3 separate regions of the Homo sapiens genome follow, and all the other regions are linked to region 2. Evidence: fine-mapped expression QTL. A gene starts in region 2. Each other region holds a variant in brackets. All regions are shown on one strand. Distances are between the middles of the regions.

What was found. PIP is the estimated chance that this variant, and not a neighbour inherited with it, causes the effect.
Region 1: its variant is the best candidate, but not a certain one, in a credible set for the expression of MEIS2 in stomach (GTEx, PIP 0.88).
Region 3: its variant is the best candidate, but not a certain one, in a credible set for the expression of MEIS2 in stomach (GTEx, PIP 0.82).

The regions. Positions count from the first base shown.
Region 1 is chr15:36,893,798-36,898,037 of GRCh38, reverse strand. It overlaps MEIS2 (Meis homeobox 2), which reads left to right. Exons shown (of 12, transcript NM_170675.5): 10 at 1,352-1,410; 11 at 2,777-2,887. Among named protein-coding and RNA genes, the nearest start is that of MIR8063, 77 kb to the left of the region's middle. RefSeq lists an enhancer at 1-235. The variant T/C (reference allele first, on the strand shown) is at 2,467.
Region 2 is chr15:37,098,110-37,102,349 of GRCh38, reverse strand. MEIS2 (Meis homeobox 2) reads left to right here and starts at 1,801. Exons shown (of 12, transcript NM_170675.5): 1 at 1,801-2,895; 2 at 4,151-4,240. The coding sequence starts at 2,884. LOC124903465 (a long non-coding RNA gene) reads right to left here and starts at 3,102. Exons shown (of 2, transcript XR_007064581.1): 1 at 2,921-3,102; 2 at 1-2,549. RefSeq lists silencers at 431-570, 3,020-3,079, 3,230-3,429 and enhancers at 1,271-1,550, 1,801-1,960.
Region 3 is chr15:36,230,307-36,234,546 of GRCh38, reverse strand. No RefSeq gene overlaps it. Among named protein-coding and RNA genes, the nearest start is that of LINC02853, 190 kb to the right of the region's middle. The variant TATC/C (reference allele first, on the strand shown) is at 2,301.

The DNA.
Region 1 (4,240 bases), 200 kb after region 2:
TTGGTTTTCTCCCAGCTATTATTCCTCAGCTTAATTGTATTCCCACCAGAGTGCTCACAGGAGGCCCGACCGAGTGGGGCCTGACTGTCCTCCTCCAAAGGGACTTCAGCTTCCTCGGAACACAGAGCTGCCAGCACACACTGAATTTTTCTGGCTAATTTCAAAGAGTGAGTTTTCAGTTCCTGCCTGTGGCCCCAGGTGGACTCATTAATCATGAAGTCCCCCTGTGCTTAAGATCTGAAACTGGAAATATTGACAGATGTTATCAATGGGTATATTTTTAGGGAGAAGCTAGCTGGATGCTCCCTGCTCCTCCGAAATGCGTGGTCAGTGAATCGTGTGCATGAGCTCAAATGTGTGGGGAATACACGTCGTTAAGTGCACAGGGACAAGGGTAACTCACAAATGGTAGAAAATTGTTTTGTTTTTATTAAATTTGGAGAAATAAAGGAGATTTCTTATCATCTTACTCTGTTTGTACATGAATATTTGATGGGCATTATTAAACATTAAAGTAACATGAAGTAGGCACTTATTTTTGGATTTCCAACAAAATTAGATCCAGGCTTCTTAGATGAAATAACTGCTTCTCCTTTGCATTCCTGCGATTCAGCCACCACCTGATTTGCAAACGTTTCTTGAGCTCTAATATCAAACATGTGTACCTGAGGCTCTGTCTTTCTAGTGGGTTGAAAGGTGGCTGGGTTTATGGTTGGCAGTTACCTTATCCTCTGCCCTGGGTGTCCCAGCTTAGGCTGGAAAGGCTGCCCCCAGCTGGCACTGACCTCTGAATGACCCCTAACTTTACAGGCTTAAACTGCAGGAGTTGCCGAAGAGCAGAAGTCTTTCTGGCCAGCACTTATTACTGCTGTGTTGGTGATAAAACTTCAGACAGCCTAATTGATGGCTTTGCTGACCTAACAATACCTTGTGAAAGCCGAGTGCTAGAGCCTGGTCTCCATTTATGACCAGCTGCAAGGGGAAGCTGGGTCTCCCTATCACGGGGAGTCTAGGGAAAGGGGGAAAGTCTTCCAGCCTGTGAACTTTAACCAGATTCCTACTTGTGCAAGAAGCAGAAGCACAATTTGAAGTTAATAGAAGCTTTCTCATGGAGAACTTTATTCCGTCCCTGAGCTCTTCTAGCAAGTTGTTTTGGAGTTGACTACGCAGTGACGACGGAGATTACCCAGTCAACTATTTTTGAACGCTGAAAGGGAAAATCACCTTTAAATTGAAAAGATAATTTTCAGAAGAGATTTGACTGTATTTTGTGCTCCTCAGCATTCATGCAAAGGTGTTCGCAGAGTACAGAAACGGAGTATGATGACTGGACTTCTCTGTTCTCTTTCAGGTTTATTAATGCCAGAAGAAGAATAGTACAGCCCATGATTGACCAGTCAAATCGAGCAGGCAAGTTCCAAGTAGTATCTATATTTATGTCCCACAGGCACAAATCCTCATCAAGTTATACTCCAGTAGTTTCCTCATCTGATAAATAAGTGCTTCCACCAGGCATTCTGGATTTTTTTTTTTAATGTCCCCAGAATCCCACTCAAGGAAGCAACTTCAGTAAGTGGTGCTAATTGGAGATTTCCCACCCTGACTCTACTGACACTGCTTTTTATTTTCTTTCTGAATTGGTAATTGGGCACAGGTATTAATGCCACAAGCAGCGTGTTTGTGAGCTCTGGCATTACCCCTTGCTTGTCTGCATCCAATCATTAGCACACTCTCATTTTTCTGTTACCCACAGCTCCTTGGTGTATGCTAGGCTTTCCTTTCTGTAGCATCTGCTGTTAAACTTATTGTATCCATTCATTTGCTTTGGCTATTCATAATATCCTATTAAAGCCTGACTTGCTGCATTGCCACCATTATTTTTTATTAAAGAATATTACCTTTGTATAAAATGCTTCACATCCATGCTGCTAAAATACATGTGAGCTTTTCTCAGAATTCTCTCAATTTCTCTAAAACAGTTTTTGTATGGTACTATCAGAACCCTCCTGGTATACTCCAAGTCGTTTTATTTTGAAACAGACATTTCCTCAGTTTACTGAGGGTTTGTGGTCTCCTGCAATAAGGCTTATAGGGAAAAACAGTTTTCCTTGGGGTGATGACTGCTGCCACTAACAACGGTGTTAAACTTGATGGAGATTTTACCTGTGGCCTCGCTTTAAAGGATTTGTGAAAATTAGTCATCCTTTGGCAAAATTTCCCCAATAACGCCAAAATATGTTCCCACTATTGGAGGCTAGGGAGAAGAACATAAAACAATGGAAATATTATATTTACTAAGTTTATATTTCCTTGGTGTGAATAAAAAGGCAAGCTTTTAATTGAGTCTATTTAACCTTGTGAAATTGTATTCAGGTTTAAAATGTTTGTGTAAAATATGAACATTTTGTATTAAGCCACCAGAGATGGCAGCCTCAGAGAATCCCAACCAAATGGTACATTGCAATA[T/C]TTGTATATGGGGTACCCCTAACTTCTCCAGCCTTCGTCCCCCTAATCAAGAGATAAGTAAAAAAGCAAGGGCTGCAGAGGACGAACCCCCTGGGAAACTGGCCAGTGAAGTCTTTCTTCCAGAACATTTTTAAAGCTACTCACACACCTTCACTCAGTCATCAAGACACTCAGACAAACCACACCCCCATTTGTAGAGTGCCAACCACATTGTTGCTATAACGTTTCAGTGCTGCAGCGGGAACAATTGCTGATTGTTTGGTATATCTTTTCTTCTTTCTCCTCTGTGTCCTCGAATGACCACAATCAGGTTTTCTTCTTGATCCTTCAGTGAGCCAAGGAGCAGCATATAGTCCAGAGGGTCAGCCCATGGGGAGCTTTGTGTTGGATGGTCAGCAACACATGGGGATCCGGCCTGCAGGTAGGTTGGCTCATCCCGCCTCTGGGCTTCCCTGGGAAGTGCCACCTGCTCCACCAGCCTCTCCATCCACTCTACTATCCCACTGTCATGGTGGGTTTAACATTTGCCTGCTGCCTGCTCTGCCTGCTTTCTTTACATTGGGTGGGGGAAAAAATTCCTCTTTGAAAAAGTAAAGATTTTACCACAGTACCATTATACTCTGCCCCATACACATCCTTTTTCTTTTTTCTTTTTAAACCAAGGCAATAAGTGAAAAGGAATCTGAGTTTCCTTCTATTTTTTCACCATCAATTATTGCTGATTTTCCGGCCTCTTCTTGGATTTTATCTCCTTTCTAGGACCTATGAGTGGAATGGGCATGAATATGGGCATGGATGGGCAATGGCACTACATGTAACCTTCATCATGTAAAGCAATCGCAAAGCAAGGGGGAAGTAAGTACAGTCGGGTGCGATCTGTCTTCACTATCACTTCAGAGACTTTATTTTATTTTTTATAATTTGCCCCCATTTTATTTTTCCTTGCCCATAACTGCATGCCTTTCCAAACTAAGGACCTGTTTTTAAATATATATCACCCATCTCTGAAGTCACAGATGACACTGATGTGCACTTTTGAAAAGGCCAACTGACAAGCCTGCGTGTGTTTTAAGCAGGTGGGACTGCCTTTTAGCCTATTTACTGTGGCCCCAATGTGCACAAACACAGACATCAGGCAGATATTGGACATTTAAGAATAAAAATAATGTCTTGGGGGCACCAGTTGACTGAGAGAAATTAAGCAGGCTTCAATGAAGCGATAAAAAAAAAAAGGAAAAGTAGAACTGTCCTTTGAGTGACATAAATCTGTCAGAATACGATTGATGCCCAAATTATCTTATATGCAAAGATGAAATGCTGCAGTTCATTATGCCTAGTCTAGATATATGACAGCAGTGACACCATTGATTCTTCACTAGGGAGTCGGTGTGTTTTGATTATTTTTTACATGTGCCTACTGACTTCCGACATGAGACAGAAAGACAGGAAAGTCAGTCAATAAATTTAAAGGGAAAGACATTTAGGAGCAACTGAATATGAAGGAATGGATTTTTCACTGAGGCTGAATGGCTGCAGTTGGATTAAGAAACCCATTAGACTTTAAAGCTTCAAGTGTTTTTGACATCTGAAAAAAATTCAGAGTCTGCCAACAAGATATATCCTTTGCTGAAGACACCAGAGCATAAAAAAATTCATATAACATTGAAACTTCCTTGTTTAATGAGGCTGAATATAACAACACGTACCTTGATTAAATCATTCTCTATATGTAAATAGAGGCCAACATTTTATAGGGGAGCTCAGGGGGTCACCA
Region 2 (4,240 bases):
AATCATTCATCATTTTTGGAGGGCTTTATTGACCTCCGGAGTTCATTCCTCAGCCCTATTAAAACGAGGCCAAATTTCTCCGACTCCGCTTGGAGTCTCTGCAGGCTGCAATCTTAGCCTAGTTTCTGTTGCTCGAAAGCTTACAGTGAAGCAGGGAACATGGAACGGGGGCCAAAAAAAAGAGCCCTCCCACCCGCCCTCCTCCCCGCTCTCTCTCGCTCTCTCTCTCTCTCTCTCACACACAACACACACACAGAGTACTTTATTCTCTCTAATCAACCTCCCCCATCCCACCCTCCCTCCGCGGGAAAGTCGGTTAGACGCGGCTCGCGGAAGACACTACTCTCCACTTCTCAGAATGGGTTCAAAGTTGGGGAGGGATGCGGCTGTTGGAGAACAACAGTCCGCTTTCCACTCTCTGGGCCAGGGACTGGGAGGGCGAGAGCGAGAAGTTGGGGAGAGGACGCGCTTCCAGCGCCTGTCCGCCCGGCCGCGCCACAAGGGGCCGAGGGGCATGGGGGCTGCTGGGCGGCAAGGCTTGCGCGGGGTGACCGTGGCTCCGCCCCCAACTCCGGGCTCGTAGTGATTGACGCGCGGCCGCCGGGAAACCAGCCGCGCAGAGGTGAAGCCTGGTGCAGCTCGGGCCAGGGAGGACAGGGCACCGGCCACAACTAGTTTCCACCCAAACGGTGTGGGGTAGTTCCCTTCGTTTCCTTTTCCTTTTTGGAAAAGTTCTTTCGGAGCTGGCCCCATCTCCCTGACCCCGCGAAATCGCCCCTGTGTAATTAACACAGCCATTAGCAGGCGTTACCGCGGCCCGCCGCTGCGCCTCGGGCGACCACAACAAAGCTGGGCTGTGAGCGCCGGCCACTCCTCCTCGCCCGGCAACTTCTTTCTCCCCCACTCTCTCCGTCTTTTCCTCCTGTGCTTCCCAGCTCTGAGTGAGATCCACTTTGGAGACGCACACTAGTCGCGCGCGCGCACGGGCGCGCGGGCGCGCGCGCGCACACACACACACACACACACACACACACACACACACACACGCCTTTGGCTACATCGGACCCAGATGACTGCCTCCTCACTTCCTCCCTCCCGATTCCGCCGCGGCCCCCAAAGACTCTCGGGGTGGCCCCTTGTCCGCACCGCTTGGAGGGAGTGTGCTCTGAGTTAAGCTGGTCTCTTCTGGTCCTGGAAAAAAATGAGTATTGACAAGGTTGCTGGATCTGCGCAGAAAAGAAAGTGCCACTTAATAAAAAATTTAGCCCGGCAGTGGTACCGTCTGCAGAGCTTGCTGCCCTTGGACGTTAGCAGGAAGCCTTCGGGGTGCTGTAATCGGCGGGCAGAGGAGAGGGAGGCCGCGGAATTAAAAGGAACAAAAGCTAGAGCGCCATGCCAAACGTCCCCGGCAAGACCCAGTTAGGCAGGAGCCGGGAGTGATGGGAAAATGAACTAGAAGTAAGTTTTTTTTTTTTTTTAAATGAAAAGATCTGAGGCGGTACCGTACTTTCCCTGTGGTTTTCTGCAGTTTTCCTCTCTGCGCTCTCCCTGTCCTCTTCTCTCTCCCCCTCTCCCTCTCTCCCTGTTCGCGCGCGCGCGCGCGCAACACACACGCGCGCACGCACACACATACACACACACTCACACACACAGACACACTCTCCTTTTCCTCCCCCCCGCCGTCCCCCATCCCCGTGGAGGAGCAGGCTTGCTGATTTGCTCGGGTCCGCCCGGCTCGAGCCTCCCCTCCCCCTCCCGCCCCCCCGCCTCCCCCACCCCCCCAGCCGGGGCTGTCCGATCGCACTCGTTGCATATCAGAGGCTCGGCGCGGCGCGCTCCTCCTCGCTCCCGCTCCCCACTCCCGGGATGTGTCTCCGCCGTACGACGGGCTATGGCCACCACGACTTCCGGGTTCCGTCATTTCGTTCTCCCGCCGCCGACCCGCGCCGCCAAACTGAGGCTCTTCAATAAGCCAGGCAGCAGCCAACCTGCCAACACCTACTGACACTCACTCATCTCCCAGAGAGAGAAAGAGAGCGAGAGAGAGCGAGCGCGAGAGAGCGAGCGCGAGTGAGAGCGAGCGAGCGAGCGAGAAAGAGAGAGAGGGAGAGACAAAATACCTACCAGGAAAGGGGGGGAGGAAGTCCAATTTTTGCAAACTATTCATTTTTTTTTCTTGATTTTTCTCACTGCTTTCTTTGAACAATACTTTAAAGAGAGAGGATCGTATTATAGATACCGCGGGGGCAAAGCTAAAAAAGGGGGGAGGGGGGAGGAAAAAATTCAAGAAGCAGAAACCCCTCGCGGAGTTTTACTGGAAGAAAAAAACGGGTCTGAAAGATTCCTCCTCTTCATCATCATCAACCATCATTCATTCACTACCTTGACATTCCGGGCTTTGATTGACAGCTGGAGTGGCAAAAAGCCATGAAACACGACAGTTCGGTTACATGTGGGCTGCTGACGGGCCGCTCGTAACCTTCAGTTCGGGGGCTTGACAATTTTTTTCTTCTTTTTCTTCTTTTTCTTTTCTTTCTTTTTTTTTCCAACTGAGGGGAAGAGAAGAGAAAGAGGGGGAAAGGAGGACCGAAGAGGAGGAGGAGGGGAGGGGGGAGGAGGAGGAGGTGGAGGAGGAGGAGGAAGATCAGGAGGAGGAGGAAGAAGAGGAAAAAAGAGAAAAAGAAGAAATATCACAGAAAAAAAAATTCTTCGTTGTCTAGACTGGGCTTTTTTTCCCCCCTAAAAAATAGCATATTGGAGAATTGGGAGAAGTCTCTTTGGTTTGGAAAAAAAAAAAAGGAATCTTCAGCCTAGATCACTTTCTTATCCGGACTGGGATATTAAATATACGACACATCCAGGAGTTTATTGGAGCGCAGACTGATGGCGCAAAGGGTAGGTTTAAATCTCCAACACTTACCTAGATATAAATCCTCTCCTAAGAGGGGCCTGTCCCGATGCCTCCTCTCCCTTCAACGCTTCTGCTGCTGCTCGCTGCTTGATGATGGCGGCCAGTATTTTAAAAAATAGCAAAATTATTCATCGGCTTCTTTCCCTCCCGTGCCTCTGCGTGTGTGCGAGTGTGTGTGCGTGCGTGTGTGCGTGTCTGGGCGCGCGTGTTCCAGCGCTGTGCGAGCGGGCGGGCGGCGAGTGCGTGTGAGTGGTGTGTGTGTGTGCGTGTGCAATCGTTACACGCTTTCGCCTCGCTCCAGCTTTTACCCCAGCAGCGCGATTCCCCCGGTTCTCCTGCTGCCGCTGCTGCGCCGCTGCCGCCGTGGCTCGCGCGGCTCGGGGCGGGCACGGGCTGCGTAGGAGCCGCCGCCGGGGCCGCCGCTGGGGCCGCGCTGCCGCAGCCGCTGCGCCGCCGCCTAGACTACTAGCCTGGGCTGCTTGTTTTGTCTCTGAAATTGACAAGGACGCAGGGAATCCGCTGCTAAATAATGTTTCTGGTAACTTTCACGTTATTCGCCCCCCCACCCTCCGCTCCCTGCCCCCGGGGAGGCACTGGCCCTAGTCTTTCCTAGTCCTCGGCGTTCTCGTGCTGATTATTAGCGTTTTTCTTCTCTTTATTTTGTTTCATTTCGCCTTTTGATTTATTGGATCCTCAGAGGAGGCGAAGGGGGGTTAGGGGTGGGATCCGGGGCTTCCTCCTCACACTAACTCCACTTCTCCCTCCGTTGGCTCGCTACGGTTCTGTTGCCTCCGGCGGGAGCGGGGCCTCCCGGCGCCCCCTCAAATCCCCGGCCTCGCCGCCTCCTCTTCCTTCTCTAAACGTTGCTCTTGGTTCATGCTTTTTCATTTTTAAATTTAATAACATTTTTTCCTCACAACTTTTAACTCCGTTGTTTTGGCTGGTTTGGTTTCTGTGTGCTCAACTTGTGCTCGGTACTTTTCTCCTTTCTGACTTTGTTTTTATTTTTATTTTCTCTCTCTCTCTCTCTCTCTCTCTCTCTCTCTCTCTCTCTCTCTCCCCCTCTCCTCCTTTTCCTCCTCCTCCTCTCTTCTCTCTTACCTCCCTCCCTCTCTCTCATCTTTATCCCTTCCTCTCTTTTCTGTTCGCCCTCTTCTCCCTGCTCTTTTTCCCTTTCCACCCCCCTCCTCTGTTCTCCCTCACCTCCTGCGCCCCCTCCCCCTTCCCGGGTTCTGACAGTACGATGAGCTGCCCCATTACGGCGGGATGGACGGAGTAGGGGTTCCCGCTTCCATGTACGGAGACCCTCACGCGCCGCGGCCGATCCCC
Region 3 (4,240 bases), 870 kb after region 2:
GAGCTTTTGCCCATTTAAAAATAGGATTGTTTGTTTTCTTATTATTGAGTTTTAAGAGTTCTTTGCATATTTTAGATATTGTATCTAAAACACACCAGATATGTGTTTTGCAATGTTTTTCTTCAGTCTTTGGCTTTTATTTGTATTCTTTTAACAATATCTTTCACACAGCAGAGGTATCTAATTTTAATAAAGTCCAACTGACCATTTTTCCTTTCATGAATCATACTTTTGGTGTTGTATCTAAAAATTCATCACCAAACCCAAGGTCACCTAGATTTTCCCCTATGTTTTCTTTTAGAATTTGTATATTTTGTGTTTTACATTTAGGTTTATAATGTATTTCACATTAATTTTTGCAAAAGATGTAAAATCTATGTCTAAATTCATTTTATTTTTGCACATAAACCTCCAGTTTTCTAGCACCATTTCTTGTAAAGACTATCCTTTCTCCATTGAACTGCCTTTGCTCTTTTGTCGATGATCAGTTGACTAAATTTGTGTGGGCCTGTTTACAGGCTTCCTATTCTGTTCCATTGAGTCTATTCTTTCATCAGTACCACACTCTGTGGATTACTGTAGCTTTATAGTAAATCTTGAAGTTTTGGGATGTCAGTCCTCCAACTTTGTTAGTATTGTGTTGGCTATTCTCAGTCTTTTGCCTTTCCATATAAACTTTAGAATTGGCTTGTTGATAGCCACAAAGCACCTTGCTGGGATTTTGTTTAGGATTGCATTAAATCTATGAATAAAGTTGGGAAGAACCAATGTCTTAACAACCTAAGATTATCCCAGTCTCTGAACATGGAATATCTCTCCATGTATTTAGGTATTCTTTGATTTCTTTCTTCAGCATTTTGAAGTAGTCTGAATGCAGAGCCGTATTTTATTAGATTTATACCTGAATACTTTAATTTTTGGTGCTGTTGTAAATGGTAATTTTAAAAATTAAAATTTTAATTATTTATTGCTGTTACATAGGACAGTAATCGACTTTTGTATGTTGTGCAAGTCTGCTATAATTGTTATTCTTGTTCCTCTAGGTAAGGTGTTTCTTTTCTCTGATCCTCAACTTTTTTCATGATTTTCTCTTTGTCTTTGGCTTTCTGAAATTAGAATATTACATGGCCAGGTGTGTGAGTGTGTGTGCACTTATGTGTGCATGCATATGTGTGTGTGTATTGGGTATATTTCCTGTTTGGTGTTGTCTGAACTTCCTGGATCTATGGTTTCTGTCTGTCATTGATTGATTTTGAAAAGTTCTAAGCCACTATTACTTCAAATATTTATTCTGCTCCATGCTCTTTCATTTCATATATTCCAATTATGCATATTATAACTTATTAAGTTGTTCCACAATTCTTGGATGTATGTACACTATTTTTAATTATTTTTTCTCTTTGAATTTCAGTTTGGGAAATATCTACTTACTTTTAAGTTCGCTAATTCTTTTCTAAGCTGTCAATTTTATTGATGAACTCATCGAAAGCTTTCTTTATTTCTATTATAGTGTTTTTTGTTTCTAGAATTTCCTTTCAATTATTTCTTAAAGTTTCCTTATTTCTTCTTACTTTACTTATCTGTTCTTGCATATTGTCTACAGTTTCCATTAGAGCCCTTAATATATTAATTGTTGTATTTTAAATTCCTTCTCTGATTATCCTAATATCAGTATCATGTCTGAGTCTGACTCTGGTGCTTGCCTTTTCTCTTCAGACTGTGTTTTCTCTTACCTTTTAACAGACTTTGCAAATTTTTATTGGAAGCCAGGCACGTGGACTCAGGTAATGGGGACTAATGTAAATAGCCCTTGTAGGAGTTATGTTAATGTGACTAGGACTTGTGTTGTGTTAATGTTTGCTGTAGCTGTAGGTGCTAGAGGCTTCAAATTCTCCTGGTATCCTTGTTTATCTCTTCCCTCTTAGGGCTTCCCTAAGTATTCCTCTTCAGAGATAGTGTGTGTCTGGCAGTTTGCTCAGCTGTAAACCACTGTTATTTTACTGAAGCCCTATTGTGGTTGTGAATTGTGGGGGAGAGGGAGCATCCTATTCCAATTAACACTCAGTCTTTTTGTTGGCTTGTGTCTTAAGGCTGACCTTCACAATCTTTTTTTAATTCTATTTTATTTTTTTTTTTTGATGGTACAACTTTTACCCCCTGCCTCCTACTTCTTTCTTGGTGGCAGTATTTCCTTTTTATATCCTTCAGATACATGACCACAGTTGAGTAGTTTTCTGCCTCCTGCTGAGGTGAGATAGAAATTTGAAGAGAGAGAAAGTAGCAGTAAAAATTATTATTAT[TATC/C]AACTAACTAATCTTCTCTCTTCAAGTTTCCCAATGGTTGAAATGAACCATGAGAAAATGCCTGAAAACCACTGATGGTGGAATGGTTCCCTGGGCCAGGTTTGTGGTGATCTTGAATCTTCTGAAGTCATCTCAGGATGTCATGTTTGAAGATGGCCTTTGACAGCTGCTTTTGATGAGCATCCCGCTTCACTCACTTGTGCCACAAGCATGTACCTCACAACTGTGCTTTTAATAATATAACTGTGCTTTTAATATAACACATGGTTTAATTAGAGACTTAAATCCAGGAAACCTCTCAAGTGACTACATTGTATTAGGTGTGTTCTTATATATTATCCCATTTACTTATCATTAAAAGCTTAATTGAGTAGGCATCATTATTTCCATTTTTTACAAATAACAAAACTGAGGTTTAGGGCGATTAACTACAAACTGTCTACAAATTCTTTCCTTCTAGCTGAGAGAATGCTCCAGCAAAGTCTTTTCCTCTGGAATACAGGTCTTGGTTATAACAAAGCTGTGGGCATATTTCACGATGATTACTCTTCTCTTTCTGCCAGATTCAGGAGGGCATCTTTCTCAGATCTTTACCATAAAAACCTTTTAGACTCCCTGGAGATAAAGCTGACAAAAACATGGGAGCACCCTTAAACCTGTGGCTCCCAGAATTTTCTCACTCTTACAGTAGCCTCAAACTAAGCCTCTATTCCTAGGTTAAAATTACCATTTAACTGTTTCTACCAGTTAATGACACGAGCAGCTTCTGTTCTGGGTAAGCAGATCTCAGCTGCGATTGCCTGGATATGCCTCCAGATTCTGTTGCAGCTGTTTACATGGAGACCTAAGTTCTCTGATAGATATGAGAAATAATTCATTTTCATTTGTCCAGCTCTTTTTTGTTTTAAGGACAGAATTAAGACTGCCATGCTATTTCTATGTCAGAACTGAAACTGTAAGTTCGTCATTGAACTCTTGGATCCATTGAAATAATTCCTGATGATTATATAGTAAACTGTCGTGTCACTTGGTCAGTATAGAGTCCTCCCTTTCAACAGGCTTCTCTAACAACAGGACACTGAGCTCTGCCTCTCACATAAAGATTCCTCTGAAAGAGCAAAGGTGTTTTGGTTCTGCCAGCCAATCAAAAGACTGTCTACAAAATGTTCGACAGCAAAATTCCAAGAATGTTTCCTCCAGTTGAGTATGTACAATTAAATCAATCCACTCACAGTGCTGGCTGTTGTAAAATATCACTGAGTGATCTTTTAGATGATGTCACACCCCAACCTAAATAAACATAGTTGCTCCTCATTTTTTTAGGACACAGACCAAAACCCTTAGTCAGGCAAATGAGTTATTCCATGATCTGCTCCTGACTCCTGCTCCGGTCAATTCCACTGTTCCTTTTATTCAATAACCTGTATCCATACTGGCCTCCTTAAGTCCTTAAACATCTTTTCCCATTTCATAACCTTCACATGTGCAGTTGCCTATGACTATAACATTCCTCCTTTCCCTGGGTAACTTTAGTTCATACTTAAACTTGCAGCTTACTAGTTTTTCAGGGAAGGCTTCTTGGGTCTTCAGATCAAGATTAAGTCTCCTTCATTGCAAGCGTTCACAGAACACTACATATTTTTTGGCAAGTATCACAACTGTCATTAATTATTTACATTATCATGTAATTCTTTGTTTAATATCTATCTTTTCAATGGACTATAAACTCCAGGAGGTTAGGGACTGCCTGTCTTGTTCACTGTTGTACCCCTTGTACCAGCAGAGTTCCAAGACAATATTTTTGAATGGATAAATGATGAATAAATAAATTCAATCTTTAATTACATTTATGGAAAACTAAATCCTTGATTTAGAATTAGAAGCTACAGAAACATATAGAGGCAATAATGAAATGAACAAAGATTGCCAAGGAGAAA